Homo sapiens: one gene and its partner. The protein of the gene in region 2 purifies or fractionates together with the protein of the main gene of each other region. This does not show direct contact. Each region holds a gene or a part of one and is shown on either strand. Other genes may lie near its edges.

Region 1 (5,217 bases), on a different chromosome or scaffold from region 2:
TGCAAGGGTGGTAGACTTAACCAGTGTGCTGGATTCACTGAGTTTCCTAGAATTTCCAGTAAATTACCAGTCCCAGGGTGTAGACCAGGCACCACTCTGTGGCAGTGTTTGGGAACTACACTTTCACCAATAGCTTGGTGTCAGAAGAAAGTGTGTTGTCACTCCTTACCACTGAAGGCGGAAGGGCAACTCACCCCTTTTTCTCTCCTTCCTTCTTCTTTTCCTCCTTAACGTGGCTTCTTTGAATGGGGAGATACTGAGTTGGCAGTTCTCCTTAGGAGGCCAGCCCGAGCTCCTGTTATGCAATCTAGTGGCATGTAAGCAGGATTATCCTGCTTATCCCAGCATAATATTATACTTTGGCATTATTAGGGGCTTCTGACAAACTTACCCAGATCAATTTTTTTTGAGGCGGGGGTGGAAACAGGGTCTTGCTTTGTTGCTCAGGCTGGAGTGCAGTGGTGCCATCATGGCTCACTGCAACCTCATCTTTCTGGGCTCAAGCAATCCCCTGACCTCAGTCTCCTGCCTCAGCCTCCTGAGTAGCTGGGACTATAGGCGCGTGCCACCATGCCTGGCTAATTTATTTTTTGTAGAGATGGGGGTTGCCCAGGCTTGCCAGACCCGATTTTATCTCTGTCTGAATGTGATAGCTTCCCTAATCCTAAATGTTTCTCCACATCTCCTGACAATGTTAAAGAAACTGAAGTTCATTTGCCCATCCATACTACCGGGAAGGCATGCTGCCCTTTGAATGGGAGGGTATTCCTTGTCTTTTGACTAGGATTCTTCTGCACACATCCTTTCATGTCTATCAGGAAACATGTGCTCTCTCCATCCTCCACCCTTCCTTTCCCCTCAGTGTACTCTTTTGAGCCCTTGGGTCCACCCTTCTTCCCTATCCTTGCCTGAACCTTTACTGTCTAGCTCAGTGCAATACTGTGCTTGCTTTTTTTTCCTCTTTTTTTCTCTTTCTGCTACAGAACATCCTTTCTGGGCTGTGGTTGGTAACTTTTTATAATTTCAGGAGAGAGACTGTTTTCTTTTCTGGCAAATTGCTGAGGCTGTGTTGATAAGTGAACGCATACATAGTTCTGTACATAACTGTAGTATTAACTGTCTAACTTCTCTTGCCTTCTGAACAAGCATGGTATTGGCACTTCATGCTGTTTGTTTTTTGGCTTGGGTATAGACTTAAAATGCCCCAATCCTTCTCTTGCCCCCAGTAATACCTCAACTACTGGTGGTTGTATAAAAGGCACTGGACTCTGAAGATAGAGACCTTGTCTTTATGGAGTATCTTTATGGAGTACTTAGTAGGTGCTTCATACATGATCACTGAACAAATGAGTGAGTGAAATCAAGAGAGCAAGGACAATTGGCTGAAGGGTTTCAAGTAGTGGGAATGAGGCTTTGCATGGTGAACAACACAGATCAAACTGGATGGCTTTGCATACTACATAAAACCTGGAGGGCTTTGCATAGCATGTAAAGAAACTATGGAATCCTGTAAGCAGCAGGGAGCCATTTAATTTATATGTTCTCTAGAGGTATAATTCATATATGTACAAAAAAGTGTACAGATCTTAAGTGTACAGCCTGATGGGTTTTTACTTATGTAAATTAACTGTGTAGTTGCTGCTCAGATCCAGAGACTATTTCCAGAACCCCAGCTTTTGTCTTGATTCACAACGTTTGGATACCAAATCCCAGAGGTCGTGTGGTTGGTCTGAAGTGTAACTAGGACTGGAATTATTACAGCTACTCCTGAGCTTAGCAAATCTTTATACTTGAGTAAAAAACACTAATTCAGACCATTTAACTGCATGACAAAAACAATAGTTATTATTATGGTTGACATTTATTAATCAGCATGCCTTGGCACTTCATATGCATTATTTCATTTTACCTGCTTCACAGGATTTTGTTCCTGTCTCTGTTTTACAGATGCTGAAGATTAGACATGTAAAGTGATTTGCCTTAGGTCCCACAGCTAGGGAATAGCAGAGTTAGAATTAAACCCACGACACTTCATCACGGGGACTGATTACTTATTGGTGATCTGTTGCCTCAAATATCTGGTACCCAAGTTTAACAAAAATGTTGCCTTTTTGGTGAGAGGTGATGCCTGTATTTGTTACCTGCACACAGTGAATGCTCTTAGGGATATTCTGACCTATGGATTCTTAGAATTTTGAGAGGGAAAGAGGTTTTTGATTCTATGATAGGCAGTTCCCAGAGTGATGTTTCGTTGGAGGAGGATTGTTTCAATGTGGATGGCTCTTTACAATTTACGTGTAGCCAGTAGATGATGGTCTCTGTAGACAAAGTATGAAGATAGGACACAGCAAAGATTGGGTGTGAACCTAAATATCCAAAAATCCCAACAATGAATTTGTCTTAAAAATTAATATGAGTGGAAATAAATGCATGTAGCAGTATGGCAAAATTCTTGTAATACTAAGATTGTGTTTCAAGAGTTAAGACATCCAAAGAAATGTCCATAGCGAGTAGAGGTAAAACAGTTTATTATACTGGACTTCAAAGTTGCAACAATCTTTTATATAACAATCAAACCAACAATCTTTTGTGCATGTTAATATCTTAATCTCACAACGCCAAGAACTGTCACATTTAAAGAATTCTAGCTATTGTGCATGGCTTGGCATTTGTAAAAAATGTATTTAACATTTGTTTATTATATTTTAGGCCAAATCAGTAGGGACAGTGTAGCACTTTTAGGCATCAGCTGGGAGTAGTCAGTGAAATTCAGGTTTTACAAGATATAAAAGCATGGCATATGGGGAAACATGTTTCAAGAAATGAATCTTAAAAAGTACAGCGCATGCTTTATCCAATTTGCTTGTGAAAGACTGCTGATTCCTGTTGTTTAAAATAGTGGGTGTAGAGAATATTGTTGCCAGTAAAATTTATTTACTTTTTGAAGTGGCATGGGTGCCAAAAAGTAAGTTCATGATTGTTTTGATACCTGCTTTTTTTTTTTTTTAAGGCTAGTTAAGTGAATTGATACCTGTTTATTTTTAAATGGTGATGGAGTGGTGGAGGAGATGGCTTCCTACTAAAAGTTACTGCTGTTGGTGAACATTTCTTTTACAGACTTTGTTCAATACATCATGCATTGAAGTGAAACATCAAAAAACAAATAGGATTATAGATATGGAATTCTGTGATTAAAGTTAAACATTTTAATTTTAATTTAAAAAAAATTTTTTTAAGAGACAGGGTGTTATTCTGTCTTCCAGGCTGGAGCGCAGTGTGGCATGATCATACCTCACTGTAACCTCGAACTCCTGGGCTCAAGCAGTTCTTCTGTCTCAGCCTCCGGAGTAACTAGGACTACAGGTGTACACCACCACATCTGGCTAAGTCTTAAATTTTTCGTGGAGATGCGGTCTCACCTTGTTGCCCAGGCTAGTCTGGAACTCCTGGGCTCAAGTAATTTTCACAAAGTGTTAGGATTACAGGCATGAGCCACCATGCCTGGCTTTAAAGTTATTCTTAAGACTTAAATAAAATGTGGAAAGTGTCCTTCAAAAAAAATATGTAAAGTCATGGTATCAGGCAGATTAATATATCTCCTCCCAAAACCAGGGGATTCTTTTCTGTCCTCTTCAAGAGTGCTTGTTTCTGAGTAGCTCTCTGGTGTTTGCATAGGTCGCCACGAATGTTGGGTCCCAAGAGCCAGGAACCCTTGCCTGAAGAAGGCTAAATACTCTTGATGCTGGTTCCTAGCATTAAGCTGTCTCCTTCCAAATCATTCCTTCAGATTTTGTAATGAGCCAGTGGGAAAATGGGCTTTGAGGAAGTCAGTCCAAAGTAGATCAAAGGAGATACTCAGAACAAATGGAGGATGATGTTGGTGTCCTGGTTAGTGCCCTTCTGTAAGAAGAGGGAAATGCACTCTCTCAGATTATTGTTGTTATCTTTTTTAAACCTTTTTCTTTTTTGGAGACAGGGTCTCATCCTGTCACCAAGGCTAGAGTGCAGAGTGGTATGATCATGGCTCACTGCAGCCTTGACCTTCTGGGCTCAGGTGATCCTTTCACCTCAGCCTCCTGAGTAGCTGATTTTTTAAAACCCTTTTAAATAAAACTGAAATGTAGGCTGAGATTCTTCCCTTCTTACTTGGATACTTTAACTGTCCCCCCCCTTTTTTTTATGGTAATGACTTCGGTAGTTGGGAGGGTTTGATCAGAGAAGAGAGGAATAGAATTTAAGATAAAAAAACAACAAAAGATGTCAGTGAAAGAGTAAGTTTGAGGTTCCTACTAATGAAAAAATTTCAAAATGATATTTTCTTGTAGTACATAAGGCAGTTGAAAGGGGAATAAGACAAAGTGTGAGAAAAGAAAGGTATAAGATGAAATGTTCCAGGCCTCTTTGTGTTGTCTCCATTTTTTCCAGATACTTGACTTCTTAGGACTGATGATTATAATCAGGTTGCTAATTCAAATAGGTCTGAATTATAACTTACTGTGTTTTCTAATTTTTCTAGAGTTTGAGATCTAGATTCTTAACCTTAAATAATTATGAAAAAAGTTGTAGATCTTTTACAGTCTTGCATATTTCAGATATGAAAATTTAGAGATACCTAGTACCTTTTCTTCACGTGAAGGTGCTCATAAGAACATTTGGTGGGGAATTGTCATAGAGGGTAAACCCTAGTACAGTGAAAATGTTTTGATTAGTTCTGGATAAGTGGAATTTGTTAAGCAAAGTTACATTGGTACATTGGTAGGCAGGTAATCATAAATTTTATTTTATTTTTTATTCTATTTATTTTATTTATTTTTATTTTTGAGACAGGGTCTTGTCCTGTCTCCCAGGCTGGAGTACAGTGGCACAATCATGGTTCATTGCAGCCCCAACCACCTGGGCTCAAGTGATCCTCCCACATCAGCCTCCCAAGTAACAGAGACCACAGGTACACACCACGTCGGCTAATTTTTTAATTTTTTAATTTTTTTTTAAGAGATAAGAGTCTTGCTGTGTTGCCCAGGCTGGTCTCAAACTCCTGGCCTCAAGTGATCCTTCTCCCTCGGCCTCCCAGAGCATAGGATTACAGGTGTGAGCTACCATGCCTGGCCATGAATTTTAAAATAAAGTTTTTTCTTTTCTTGCAGTCCTATTTTGTAACGGATTATGATCCAACCATTGAAGATTCTTACACAAAGCAGTGTGTGATAGATGACAGAG
Region 2 (5,217 bases):
CCAGAAGGCTGATTTTCACAATTTAGTGCTATAACTGACAGCATTTGAAATACATGAAGAAAATAATCGAGCCCGTGATGTTACTCAGCCTTCCTACCAGAAAAGAGAGTAAAGCATCCCCACAGGAGTGTCTGTTCTCCTCTTCCAGCCACAGTCACAAGTGTGCTAGCACCTTACCTGGTGAAACATGGGAAGAGGAAAAACACATGAATGCCTGTTGGAGTTATTTATAAGAAACCCAAGCAGAATTTATAAAATATAAATAGAAGAACTCATCACCTAAACTCATGGCCACACTACATTACACTAGCAATAATTATCTTTATAACTGTTGTCAACTGTCTTTTCAAGATGAGACAACTTAGCATCAATCCATCTGGTCATCTTCTCTGTTTGAGTAGTTCATGTCTAATAAGAAGGAGAAATTCTCATAACTGTACAACAAGGTATATGCTGAAAACTGATTACCCTAATAATATTGGCTTCAATATTCTAGACTATAAACGTTTTTCTTCCATCATAATATTTTCCTAATACTTTGTATTTCCATGGCTCTTGAGTTGTTTTTTAGTGCTTTCCACATCCATCTTCCCTCACGTGACCCTCATGACGGCTCTGTGAGGTAGCCAGGGCAGGCATCAGTACCCCACTTTGCAGATGACCCTGAGACTTGGGAAAGTGACTCAGCTAGGGGTCACATGGCTATTAAGAATCGAAAGAGGGACTAGAAACTATCCTAATCCAACACTCTTTCCTCCATACTAATGGATGGGAATTGCTTCTATCAATTTGTGCATTAGCAATCCACATCCTTCTCAAGTTCAGGCAACTGAGTCAATTAAAAAGGTGACTGGAAAGGAATGGCTCTACTTTTACTGCCTCAGTATAAAAGTCTCTTAAGTTGTGGCGTCAGAAAAATTAACTTCTTCCCACTCCAGTCTCTAAACCTGAGCATGGCCCTATAATGCCTTTAAGAAACTGGGGATAGAAATGGACACTGAAGTGTAAAATGGAAGGGAGACGGAAGGAGGAGCCATCATCCCTCAGAGAGCCACATAGAAGGCACTTCAGACAATGTCCTCGGCAGGGTGGTGGAATGCACGTGTGCCCAGGGTGGAGAACTGGTGCCAGTTCCGCAGGAAGCCCCTATTGTACTGGCCTGTGTCCACGATGAGCCCGCAGAGGAGCCGGCGCCCAGTCTTCTGTCGGAGGGCCTGCTGGACTTCCCGCTCAGTCACATTGTAGCTGATGTTGATCAGCTGGATCAGGAAGATGTAGGCCATGCCTGCTGTGATGATCACAGAGTACCACACGCAGGTGAAGGACAGAGCCGAGCTAGGAGAGGGAAAAAGGCTGTCAGGGCTGCCGTTTTTGTCAAATTCAGAAAACTGTCATCATTCTCACGTTTTACACATTTTTTTACTTATTACTAAAGACTTTGGCATCTTCCCCAACCCTCCGAACTGGAAGATACTCAGAATGCCAATAACCTGCTTAAGTAGGAGAATGTGTGTGTTTATTCTATAATTACTGGTGCCTATTTTCTAGTATATTACACTAGAATAGCAGGGACTGTTTTTTGCATTTTGTACCCTCCACACACCCAGCACGCTGCCTGACATAACAGCGTTCAACACCTGTTTGTTAAATAAACAAGTAATTCGTAAATTACATCTAACTCATGAGAAAACAAAGGCACCAAGGGACTGCTATAAATGTCTTCTAGGAAGCTGCAGGTGGATGCCGAGGAACAGTGCTAAAGTTACTAATCTCCATTCTTTCCAGTCCAATGCTGAGGAATGAAAAGACGATGGACGACTCCCAACCCCAGCAGCCCTGTGCTTACCTGGATGTAGGAACACCGAGACATTCCAAATTCACCCTCCTAAAGCCCAACACAATCACACAAGGTAGGGAAGCTCCTCTCAGGCTCACTAATGAGACAGGCTGCCAGTTAGCCTCTGCCATTTGATGATTTTCCAACATTCGCAAATTAAGAGTTAGTTAGAAATAAGTTCATTCAGAATCTTCATTTGTAAAAGCTGAAGGGACCTCAAAGACTATTAAATCCAAGGACCTAACCAAAAAGATGAGGTGCTGTGAATCGCCTGCACAGAGCAGGGTGAGAAGCAATGGCAGGACTGTATTCCTCGGTTCCCTCGCCTCCGCACCGAGAGTGCACAGACATGCTGTGCTTCAGGACGGGCCTCACCTGCAGCGTTAGCAGAGAATTTCATTCACATGCTGGAGATACTCTCCACACAGTGAGGAAGGAAACTTAATCTGAGGAAGACCAATCTATTCTAATAATGCCCACAGGTGTCTGGTTCTAGGATGACAATGGGGAGATCTGTCCACAGGCTAATAAAAACAAATGCCACAAAGGGATACTTTGTAAAGAAAGCAAGGATTGTTCTGAAAATGAAGAGTGAGAATAAAGAAAAGGGCCAAACCACAGATACCCCAGAGCACTTATGTCAGAGAGGATGATGAAGGGAAGGGAATAAAGAGCATGGGCAGAGGGGGGCCCCAGCATTCAGGGAGGGGGCGCTGAGGCCGAAGCGGAAGAATCCCAAATTTTGCCATGGCCTGGAAATCTTCACAATCTATAAAGGGGCCTAAGGAAATTTTGACCTACATATCACAGTAATCATCAGTGGTGATTAAAAAAAGAAAGAAAGTAGAACAGGAAAAACCAAGAGAGGTTAGAAAGAAAAGCAAGGTTATAGAGATGTCGAGCACATCTCAAAAGGGTCGGAAGCAGTAAATTAAGATTGGACTAAAAAACATCAGAAAGCAGCAGTAAAGTGAGAAGGTTTCTGATCGTTATGACAAAATAGGCACATATGTGCCCTGGGGCTGCTAGTTTTTGTTTATTGTTTCTGTTTCACTGTTGCGACTTTTGAGCCTATGAGTGGTCATTTGACTCTGGAAGTCCCTGATTAGGCCTGGTCCTGTTTGTAGAGAACTAGTTCTTCACTTTTTAAAGGTCAACAATCCTTTTAACAGCACCCTTGAAAAACACACATCACCAATGCACAATTTTGCTGGCAATTCCAGGGATACCCAGCATTTCCATAGCCTGGCCTATGTTTTGATTGAGAACTCCTAACCAAGTAGTAATAGTCCCTGTCAATGGCAACACCCATTACTTCCCAGGGGGCCTCCATACTGTGGTACCCACTGCTCACCTGTAATTTGCATAAACTCCAGGACAATAGAAAAGAGCTGTGAAGACACTTCTGTCTCTACAAATGGTGTCCAAGGTCAGTGTGATCCCATACACCGAGGTGAGCAAGAAGATCAAAAGGGCAAGTATAAATGCTTGATGATTTGATTCTCCAACGCAGCTATTTATCCTCAAAACAGCATAGAGAAATAAAAAAGCAAACACATTTTTAAGAGTTCTTGATATAACTTACATAATAAACATGAAAGCTTTATTTTTTTTGAGACGGAGTCTTGCTCTGTAGTTCAGGCTAAAGTGCAATGGCGCGATCTTGGCTCACTGCAACCTCTGCCTCCCGGGTCCCGGTTAAGCAATTCTCCTGCCTCAGCCTCTCAAGTAGCTGGGATTACAGGCACATGCCACCATGCCCAGCTAATTTGTGTATTTTGAGTAGAGATGGGGTTTCACCATGTTGGCCAGGCTGGTCTTGAACTCCTGACCTCATGATCCACCCACCTCAGCCTCCCAAAGTGTTGGGATTACAGGCATGAGCCACTGCGCCCAGCCAAGACAAGGTTTTAAATAGGGAAAATGTAAATTCCAGTTATTAAGAAGTTCTCTTATTTTTCAATTTTAGGGAATTAAAAACTTGCACCCTGAGGAATGCAGTCTTATATTCTCTACTCTTCGCAAAGTGGAATCATATCGTCAGTTTAAGGACAAGACTAAGTATAAAAAGCAGAACCTGGCTAACAAATCTTCCTAAATATCAATATTACCCAGCTATGGAGATCTAACATTGTCCTCACCATGTTAAGGAAAGGGAGATAAATAGAATTATGAAAACTTAAAAATGCTAAATCAGAAGTATTACATAGTATGGGAAAATTCATGTTAAATATATGAAGAGTAATATAAAGATCCAAAGAGGTTAGAAACATAGCGTAGGGGGAAGAACAACTTGATAACATGCAGGCTCTTTGGCAGGTAAAAACAGTTCTGTGTCATGGCCATTTGTGGGGCAGAATGTAGAGGGAGTGCCTTCTACCCACTGCATGCCAGGATGCTCCAGTGGGCACATATCTGCTGTTAGGTGAGCCTTCTGCAAACCAGCATTTGTAAATGGAACACACACGCACACACACACACACACACACACACACACACACGAATAAGTGAAGACACAGAAGTAGAACATCTAAAAATGAAAACACCTGTTTACTTCTAAAGACAAGGACCCAGAAAAGAGCTGCCCTGCACTTGAGCCATGCACTTGAGGCCCACGCCAATGCCTCTCAGCCTTTTCTGCACCCTCACCCTCTCCTGCATCCCCTTCTGAGGAGGAGGTACGCTACAGGACCAGAATCCTAGACACGAAAAGCATTAATTCATTGATCACGACTGCCTGAAGAGCAATAAACTGCAAACATGCTACTTACAGCATTCATATCTGAATTAATTATAGTCCCTTTAGTTTAGATGTATTTAGTGAAGCTGCAACATTATCTTTAAACATTGCACTTCATATTTTACGGAGCCTTATGTACCTTCGTTTGTTACTGGCCAACTGGCAGGTACAAAAGCCCATTTCTCTGCAAATAATCAAATAGAGAGTTTATCTGGTGGGACCTCGATTCAATAATGTTAAGTGGAAATCATCGGTAGCATCAAAAACGATTAAGTATGTATGGCAAGGGGACAAAAGAGTCACCTAAAAATAGGGGTACACTTTCTTGAGCTTTATGTTTAAAAAGGAATAGCACAGGGAAATATGCTTATACTGTTTCTGATCAATTCTTTTTTTAAAAAATCATTCAACTGTAGATATTTCTCTATTAGAAAGGAAAAGATAAATGAGGAGTCATTCAAAAGAAAATTGAGAAAAAAAAAACCCCACAAGTTTTCTGTTATTCTCCTTCAGGAAATGACTGAAGGAACTAAATTTGTGAAACTCGAAAAACTGATGACTAAGTGGGAACATCACAACAACCCACAAATATCTACAAGGTGTAAAGCTGGGAAGGAGAGAAATTTTGGGATAGCACAAG

What was found.
Region 1: the proteins of ZDHHC23 (region 2) and RRAS2 purify together in Homo sapiens (affinity purification with mass spectrometry; one large-scale study listed by BioGRID and IntAct). This does not show direct contact.

Annotation. Positions count from the first base shown.
Region 1 is NC_000011.10:14,295,783-14,300,999, reverse strand, and holds part of RRAS2 (ras-related protein R-Ras2), read left to right. Parts: intron 1-4,926; exon of another isoform or gene 4,927-4,945; intron 4,946-5,144; coding exon 5,145-5,217. UniProt on the Homo sapiens protein: GTP-binding protein with GTPase activity, involved in the regulation of MAPK signaling pathway and thereby controlling multiple cellular processes. Regulates craniofacial development.
Region 2 is NC_000003.12:113,954,481-113,959,697, reverse strand, and holds part of ZDHHC23 (palmitoyltransferase ZDHHC23), read right to left. Parts: intron 3,360-5,217; coding exon 3,192-3,359; intron 1,336-3,191; coding exon 1,068-1,335; 3' UTR 178-1,067; coding exon of another isoform or gene 155-177; 3' UTR 1-154. UniProt on the Homo sapiens protein: Palmitoyltransferase that could catalyze the addition of palmitate onto various protein substrates and be involved in a variety of cellular processes.